3 separate regions of the Homo sapiens genome follow, and all the other regions are linked to region 1. Evidence: fine-mapped expression QTL. A gene starts in region 1. Each other region holds a variant in brackets. All regions are shown on one strand. Distances are from middle to middle.

The links. PIP is the estimated chance that this variant, and not a neighbour inherited with it, causes the effect. A credible set is the group of variants that fine-mapping cannot tell apart.
Region 2: its variant is the best candidate, but not a certain one, in a credible set for the expression of SEMA4B in monocytes after LPS (Quach 2016, PIP 0.80).
Region 3: its variant is the best candidate, but not a certain one, in a credible set for the expression of SEMA4B in fibroblasts (GTEx, PIP 0.58).

What each region holds. Positions count from the first base shown.
Region 1 is chr15:90,200,105-90,202,899 of GRCh38, reverse strand. It overlaps SEMA4B (semaphorin 4B), which reads right to left and starts at 1,570. Exons shown (of 14, transcript NM_198925.4): 1 at 1,165-1,570. The coding sequence starts at 1,321. RefSeq lists a silencer at 1,119-1,878 and an enhancer at 1,051-2,022.
Region 2 is chr15:90,229,065-90,231,734 of GRCh38, reverse strand. It overlaps SEMA4B (semaphorin 4B), which reads right to left. Exons shown (of 14, transcript NM_198925.4): 14 at 2,075-2,670. CIB1 (calcium and integrin binding 1) reads left to right here. Exons shown (of 7, transcript NM_006384.4): 4 at 228-378; 5 at 522-640; 6 at 713-801; 7 at 1,230-1,760. The coding sequence ends at 1,251. Among named protein-coding and RNA genes, the nearest start is that of CIB1, 3.5 kb to the left of the region's middle. The variant T/A (reference allele first, on the strand shown) is at 1,716.
Region 3 is chr15:90,175,602-90,178,396 of GRCh38, reverse strand. No RefSeq gene overlaps it. Among named protein-coding and RNA genes, the nearest start is that of SEMA4B, 24 kb to the left of the region's middle. RefSeq lists an enhancer at 1-334. The variant C/G (reference allele first, on the strand shown) is at 1,264.

The DNA.
Region 1 (2,795 bases):
CCCTGCCTTAATTTAAGTGCTGATTCTACTATTTCCCTTTGTAAACAGGATGCTTTTAGAGGTGGGGATGCTGTGAGGAGATGGAAGTCTGGGACAGTTTCAGTCTGTAACCTCTAATTCATACATGCTTTATTCCAAGTCATACAATATGACAACCAACAAGTTAAAGGGCTTGCGGATACATCTGTTGGGCACTTATAAACTTCATACCCGAGTAACACACCTTGCAAGGCACCTACGACTGCCTATTTTGCAGATGAGAAAGGTGGGGCACTGGGAGCAGAAGGCACTTACTTGCCCAGTGGAAGAAATGGGCTTGGGATCCAGGACCCTCTGAATCTAAAGCCCAAGTGCCCCAAGAAGAGCTGGAGAAGCAACCGGATGGAAGGGAAAAGGAGAGGGAAGGGCGGAGGGCTGAAACAGGAGGTGGCCACAGAAGCAGATGTGAGGACCAGGAAAGGAACCCAGCCAACCAGGATGCTACTCCCAGGTCACTCTGAGGAGGGGTCGCGCCCAGGACTTGGGAATGTCAGCGCCCAGAGCTGCCCCCATCCGCAGTCTGTTCGCTCCCAGGACTTGGGAATGTCAGCGCCCAGAGCTGCCCCCATCCGCAGTCTGGTCGCTCCCAGGGCCTGGAGGTCTCTCCATGCTGGGGCTTGGGGCTGCACTGGCAAGCCAGGGATGGAGGGGCGGAGAGGGAGGATCGGGCGCCTGCCCGCCCACCACAGCTCCCGGCCCTGCTGCGACTTGCTGGGAATACCAGAACCCCAGTGTTTATAGGACTGCAAGCAGTGGCCTCCCTCTACCCCGAGCCGCCCTCGGGGGCGGCACCGCGGTCGGCTCTGGTCAGCATCAAAGACAAGTAGATGGGCAGGCGGACCCCGCCGAAAGTGCATCCTCCTAAGGGAACTAGGGGGGACGACAGAGCGGGCTAGACCCCATCCCTACGCAGAAAGAAAACTGAAGAAAGGGGCCAGCGGCCCCACAGCTCCCCTCTCCTCTCCCTCCCTCCGCGCAGCGCCTTGAAAAAAGAAGGGGTCCTAATGGATCCCGTGCCTCCGACAGGTCCCCTCCTTGGTCCTTTGTCACGGCCACCTCCGCACGAGGCACGTCCCCGGCAGCCTTCCTTCCCCCGGCCCGCGTCCCCGGGTCCCCGGCACTCACCCAGAGGCAGGCTGATCCGGGGGCTGAGCGCCCAGGTCGGAGGCGGCGGCTGCAGCAGGAGCAGCAGCAGCAGGAGCAGCAGCAGCGGTGGCCGAGGCGGCAGCGCGCCCCATGGGGCGGCGAGCCAGCTCCTCAGGCCCATCGCGGTGCGCAGCATTCGGAGAGCAGGAGCGACGGTGTCCCGCGGCTCGGGCTCAGGTGGCTCGGCCGGACTCACGGGCGGCAGCTCCGCCCCGCGGTCCGCCCCCGAGTCGCCCCGGGGGCCCCCGCCTCCGGACCTGGGGGGCGGGAGGTGGGAAACAGGGTCAAGTGGGCCCTGGCAAACTCAGCCCCTCCGCGGGGCACCGCAGTCCTCCCGCCGGCGCCGGCCCCGCAGCCTCGGCTTGGGCAGAGCTCACCCGCAAGCGGCGGAGGGCGGGGCTGAAGGAGGAAGTCGGCCGTGAGCCCGGCCGGCCCGCCCCCTTCCCCCTTCCTCCTTCCCGGGCGCTGGCAGCGCGAGGGGCGGCAGCTCGGGGCGCTGCCGCAGGGGCCAAGCCCGGGATCAGTAGCCCCGGCGGCCGCCGGAGCGCTGGGACGCGGACGAAAGCCGACCCCCAGCTCCCCGCCCCCACTGCTCAGACCCTCCCACCGCCGCCCAGGCCCTGGCCCCTTCCGGCTCCTCTGGGACCCTCTGCTAGTGGCGTTGGTTTGGGGACACGCTGCGTCCCCGCTATGCGCCTAGGGAGTTAGGGGGCGGATGGTGATTAGGCCTTGGTCTCCTCCCTTTAGGCGCCCCCTCCGCTCTTGCTCCTGGCGACCCCCTTGTTCCTGCGACCAAATGAACTCGGCCGAGCTCGTGCTGACACTGGGGCTAGCAGCTTGAGAGTCCAATTTTTGCACAGGTCAATCCACTGCAAGTCATGGCTGGGCATTCACTACAAGCTCAGCACTTAGTCTAGGCACCCTGCGGGCTTGTCCGCTTAATATTCTGTCCACGCGAAGCCCTCGGGTGGGGGAAGGGCAAGATTAGCTTAAGTGGGATAATAGGATTTAATGTACTGCTGAGGAGGTAAAACCTTCACAACCTGCACGTGACCCGGCAGGGGAAGGGAACCCCTAAGACTGGAGTGGAAGCCCAGAGGCACCCACCCCTAATCCTCCTGGCTCCTAACATCTCCACGGGTGGAGTTCAGCTCTGCTGAGACCAGGGGTTTCCAACTGCAGCCTGGACCATTAGCAGATTCTGAAATCAATTTAGTGGATCCCAACAGCATTAAGAAACAAACAAAACATAGAAACTATCTAAGCAATAATCTCAAAGGATAAGTAATTTTGGGAAAGCTACTTCAACTTTTCCTAAGTGTGCACAGGATTACAGAAAAATGTAGTAGTTCCTCCTGTAGTTAAGAGTCCAAAAGAGTGAAAGCCTCTGCTAGTTATTTCCATGGCAGTAGAGACCATCGCTCCATAAATTTGCTGCAATTGCAGGAAAGCTCCTCTTCACCCCCAGCCAAAATCAGCCTCCTCAGAGCACCTCTTTTCCTCTCCTCCCGACTTTCAGGGTCTGCCACATCTGCTCCCACAACAGGGATGCTGTCAAGAGGGTGGGCACAGCACCCACATGGTCCCAGGTCTCCTTTCTTACAGCTAAG
Region 2 (2,670 bases), 29 kb before region 1:
GGGTTAAACACTTGACTCCCAGGAAGCCATCTCAGTCCCTTCCCCAGCTGGGTCAGTTTGCTTTCCTGTGCCCCCACTGCCCTCCATGTTGGCCCCAAAGCACTGACTGTTCACCCCCACGAGGCTGAGCTCGCTGGTGCTGGTCCTGTGACCTGCTCTCTCAAGTTTCTGGTAGGCTTTAATGAGCGTGTGACCTGGGCCACGTCCTGTGGCGTTTGTTCTCCTAGGCCAACCCCTTCAAGGAGCGAATCTGCAGGGTCTTCTCCACATCCCCAGCCAAAGACAGCCTTAGCTTTGAGGACTTCCTGGATCTCCTCAGTGTGTTCAGTGACACAGCCACGCCAGACATCAAGTCCCATTATGCCTTCCGCATCTTTGGTGAGAACCAGGAGCAGCCCGGCAGGACACCACCCCTTCCCACGTGGGCTTTGTGGTGGCCCTGCTTGGGAAATGGGCGCCGTTTGGGGAACCTCAGAGCCCCTCCCAACCGTGTCTTTTGGCTTCCTGTGTCTGCTCTCTAGACTTTGATGATGACGGAACCTTGAACAGAGAAGACCTGAGCCGGCTGGTGAACTGCCTCACGGGAGAGGGCGAGGACACACGGCTTAGTGCGTCTGAGATGAAGCAGCTCATCGACAACGTGAGCAGCTGAGCAGGCCTGGGAGCGGGAGGGAGCAGTTGGGGCTCTGGCCTGAAACTCTCCCTTTCCCAGATCCTGGAGGAGTCTGACATTGACAGGGATGGAACCATCAACCTCTCTGAGTTCCAGCACGTCATCTCCCGTTCTCCAGACTTTGCCAGGTATGACAGTGGTCCCCCTTCATTCTGGGTACCTGCAGGTTCCGACCTGCTGCCTCTGGGCCTAGGGCATGGCTACAGGAGGTGGTGCCAGGGTGAGAGAAAGCCCCAGTCCCCACACACAGGGCCGGCTAAGCTGGCAGTCTCGCCCCGGGCAGGGGCAGCCCTCCTTGTCAAGACCTCTCCCCTTCCCACTGCCATTGTCATTGCTCTGTGTTTGTACTCATTAGTAATAAAGGTTTAGAAGCTCTGACCCAGTGTGTGGGTCCAGAAAGCTCCCTCTGGATGTCTCGGGGAGTTCTTGCAGAGGGGGCTGACACACGGAACATAGCCCGTTCCAAAGAAGGGTCTAAAGGGAGAAGGGGGCAAGTTCGGGTTTAGTCCCTGCCCTCCTCTTCCAGCAGAAAACCCACCGCTTTTCTCTTGTTCAGCTCCTTTAAGATTGTCCTGTGACAGCAGCCCCAGCGTGTGTCCTGGCACCCTGTCCAAGAACCTTTCTACTGCTGAGCTGTGGCCAAGGTCAAGCCTGTGTTGCCAGTGCGGGCCAAGCTGGCCCAGCCTGGAGCTGGCGCTGTGCAGCCTCACCCCGGGCAGGGGCGGCCCTCGTTGTCAGGGCCTCTCCTCACTGCTGTTGTCATTGCTCCGTTTGTGTTTGTACTAATCAGTAATAAAGGTTTAGAAGTTTGACCCTATGTGTGACATGAGATACACTGGTATGAGGAAGGACTGGACTTCTCTTCTAAGAGCCTTCAATCATCCTAGGAATAAGCAGCATATCGAGCAGAGGCCAGCGGGAAGTCAAGCCGCACCCACGCTGGCTGTCCCCGTGGGAGGGTGTGAGGATGAAGGGGCAGCAGGAGGTGTGGGACTCGCCTGTATCCTGATTGGGGTGGTGGTTAGATGAGTCTCTGCATGCA[T/A]CAAAATGTAAAGAACCGTACATCAGTAAAGTCTATTTTACTGCATGATCTGAAGAATTAAAAACTTTAATACAGGGCCCCCATCCCATCCCATCCCTTCCCTTGTGTCCCTACCCTTGCTAAACTGAATTGGGGATGCAGAATGAAGGGGTTGAGGTAAACGCAATGAACCCCCTGCCTCCGCCTATCAGTGCGTTAAGCTCCCCACCTCAGAGCCGCCCCACAGGGAGACGTTGCTGACCAGGCTAGGCTGACTCTGGCTCACTTGAGCCTGCAAAGAAGAGGTTCAGAACCTCTCAGAACTCAGAAGACTAGACCTACCTCAAAAAGCAACTGTCCTTGAAGAGGAAGAGCCAGGATTAAACAGTAATTCTTCAGACTTTATTAAAAAATGACATAAAGTGCATCTTATTAAAAAATGTATAAAAACCACATAAATTCAGGGCCCCTGTGCTGGGCAGTGTTGATATCCCTTAGAGTGGAGGAAGGTGAGGGATGGAGGGTGAACTGGGGACTGGGGAGAGGACCAGGGTGCAGTTAGTTCCTCGTGTTTGAGTTCAAAGATGGAGCGAGGGTGGATATGGTGGGAAGGGGCACACGGGTTCTCACGCAACAACGGAGGAAGGCAGGCGACAGTCTCTTCCCTGAATTCTGAGGGAAAGGCGTACATTGTCACGAAATCTCTCCTGAGCTCGCGCTGTCCTCTCGTGTGGCCACAGCCTGATACAGGCTGGAAAGGTCCAGGAGTTGGGTCCGAGCCCAGGACCTGGTGAGGGCCGCAGTGCCAACCTAGCCCTCTGGTCCCTGAGGTGGTGGGACGACGGCAGCAACAACTACATCCTCGGCTGACTGGCAAGGCAGAACGCACGCAGCCCAAGCTGGTCCTGAATCTGCAGTGAGACAGGGCAGCCGGTGGCAGCGGGATAATGTGGAAGGTGAAGAGGCCAGTTGGTGA
Region 3 (2,795 bases), 25 kb after region 1:
GCACTCCAGTCTGGGCAACAGAGTGAGACCCTGTCTCAAACAAACAAACAAACAAAATTAAAGTCATCAGATGGGGTCTTCCTTATTTTTTTCCATCTGCATTGAGAGAGACCCAGTCTACTTTCATGAAAAGGGTGGTGGTCTTGGTATAGATGGATGGATAGATTGCTGTTTACAAGAAATGCAGTTATTTTACGTGTTTAGACACAACAAAACAGTGCTCTTTAACACACGCAAGTACAATGGCTATAGGTGCAAATACATTTTGCAATAACATACAAAGTCTAAATCTGAAGCTCTTTCTGAATTGGGAACCTAGGTAAATGGGCCCTCCTTGGTACCTAACAGGCTTCATCCACTTCCAAGCTACTCCCTGCAAGCCCCCCACCGCCCTGCCCCTCCTACCCTTCTTCTCACCAAAGTAATTGTTCTACACCCTGGCTGCGCATTGGAATCGCTTGGAGGAGCTGGCCAATTCTGCATATCATTTCAATCAGATTCTCTGGGGGTGAATCCAGGCTTCAGTTGTGTTTTTTTTTTTTTGACAGAGTGTCACTCCGTCACCAAGGCTGGAGTGCAATGGCACAATCTTGGCTCACCGCAACCTCTACCTGTTGGGTTCAAGCGATTCTCCTGCCTCAGCCTCCTGAGTAGCTGGGACTACAGGCGTGTGCCACCAGGCCCAGCTAATTTTTGTATTTTTAGTAGAGACGGGGTTTCACCACATTGGCCAGGCTGGCCTCGATCTCCTGACCTCAGGTGATCTGTCTGCCTTGGCCCCGCAAAGTGCTGGAATTACAGGCATGAGCCACCGCGCCCAACCAACATCAGTATTTATTTATTTGTTTTTTTGAGATTGATTCTTGCACTGTTGCCCAGGCTGGAATGCAAGGGTGCAATCTCGGCTCACCGCAACTTCTGCCTCCCGGGTTCAAGTGATTCTCATGCCTCAGCCTCCAGAATAGCTGAGATTACAGGCACCCGCCAACATGCCCAGCTAATTTTTGTATTTTTAATAGAGATGGGGTTTCACCACGTTAGCTAGGCTGGTCTCGAAGTTCTGACCTCAAGTGATCCGCCTGCCTCTGCCTCCTAAAGTGCTGGAATTATGGGCACCAGCCACTTCGCCCAGCCAAACACATGTAAATTTTCAAATTCTGTAGGTGATTCGAGCCAGCAGCAGAGGTTGGGGGTTGGGAAGCCAGTCCTACAGAAACTGCCCCTCCTCCTATCTACCCTTCCACTGTACTTTGTCTCCCACTC[C/G]CTCCCTCTCAACTGGTTTACTTCTAAAGACTTTTCTTTTTTTTTTTTTTCTGAGATGGAGTCTCGCTCTGTCACCCAGGCAGGAGTGCAGTGGCGCGATCTCAGCTCACTGCAACCTCCGCCTCCCAGATTCAAGTGATTCTCCTGCCTCCCAAGTAACTGGGACTACAGGTGTGTGCCACCAAGCCTGGCTAATTTTTGTATTTTTAGTAGAGATGGGGTTTCACCATGTTGGCCAGGCTGGCCTCGAACTCCTGACCTCAAGTGATCCCCCTGCCTCGGCCTCCCAAAGTGCTGGGATTACAGGCTGAGCCCCCGCACATGGCCTAAAGACTTTTCAACATGATCAAGTCTCTCCCACTTACGGAAAAAAGAAAAATTGCAAATACCCACAAATATTCCTTGACTTTCACATGCTGCTCCAAGCTCCTTCCCATCCCAGGGCTCTTAGCTAGAATGCTCTCCTCTGGTTCCAAGCTACACCCAGACTGGTAACTTAGTTACACCCTTAGCCTTGTTTCTCAAACCCTAATATGTATGCTGCTGTGCACCTGGGAGATCTTGTTAAAAAGCACATTTAGGCCTGGCGCAGTGGCAAATGCCTGTAATCTCAGTACTTTGGGAGGCCGATGGGAGGCCAAGGTGGGTGGATCACCTGAGGTCTGGAGTTTGAGACCAGCCTGGCCAACACAGTGAAACCCCGTCTCTACTAAAAATACAAAAATTAGCCGGGTGTGGTGGCGAGTGCCTGTAATCCCAGCTGCTCGGGAAACTGAGGTAGGAGAATCTCTTGAACCCGGGAGGCAGAGGTTGCAATGAGCTGAGATAGCGCCACTGCACTCCAGCCTGGGCAACAAGAGTGAGATTCCATCTCAAAAAAAAAATAAAAATAAAAAATAAAAATAAATAGCACATTTAGAAACTGTAGATCTGGGGGGGGGCTGAAGATTCTTCATTTTAACACAGTTCAATATGAGGGCGATGCTGTGCATTATCTTCAAGCAGTAAAGTTTTAAGTCTCTGCTCAACAGGCTCCTTGGGAAAGCAACCCCGACTTTCCTACGTTAAAGCCTCCTTCACAGCACTTAAGGCTTTTTTGATATTTCTGCTCGTCCTCCCAGTTTACTCCTCCATAAAATGGGCATTCCGGCCGGGTGCGGTGGCTCACGTCTGTAATCCTAGCACTTTGGGAGGCCGAGGCAGGCAGATTGCCTGAGCTCAGGAGTTCAAGACCAGCCTGGGCAACAAGGTGAAACCCCGTCTCTACTAAAATACAAAAAATTAGCTGGGCGTGGCAGCGTGTGCCTGTAGTCCTAGCTACTCGGGAGACTGAGGCAGGAGAATTGCTTGAACCCGGGAGGCGGAGGTTGCAGTGAGCCAAGATCGCACCACTGCAGTCCAGCCTGGGTGACAGAGCGACTCCGTCTCAAAAAAAAAAAAAAAAAAAAAAGGGGGCACTCCACAAAGGCATGAGACATGTCTGTCTGAGATTGCTTGCTGTCATGTCACCAGTGCCTCACATAGTGTCTGGC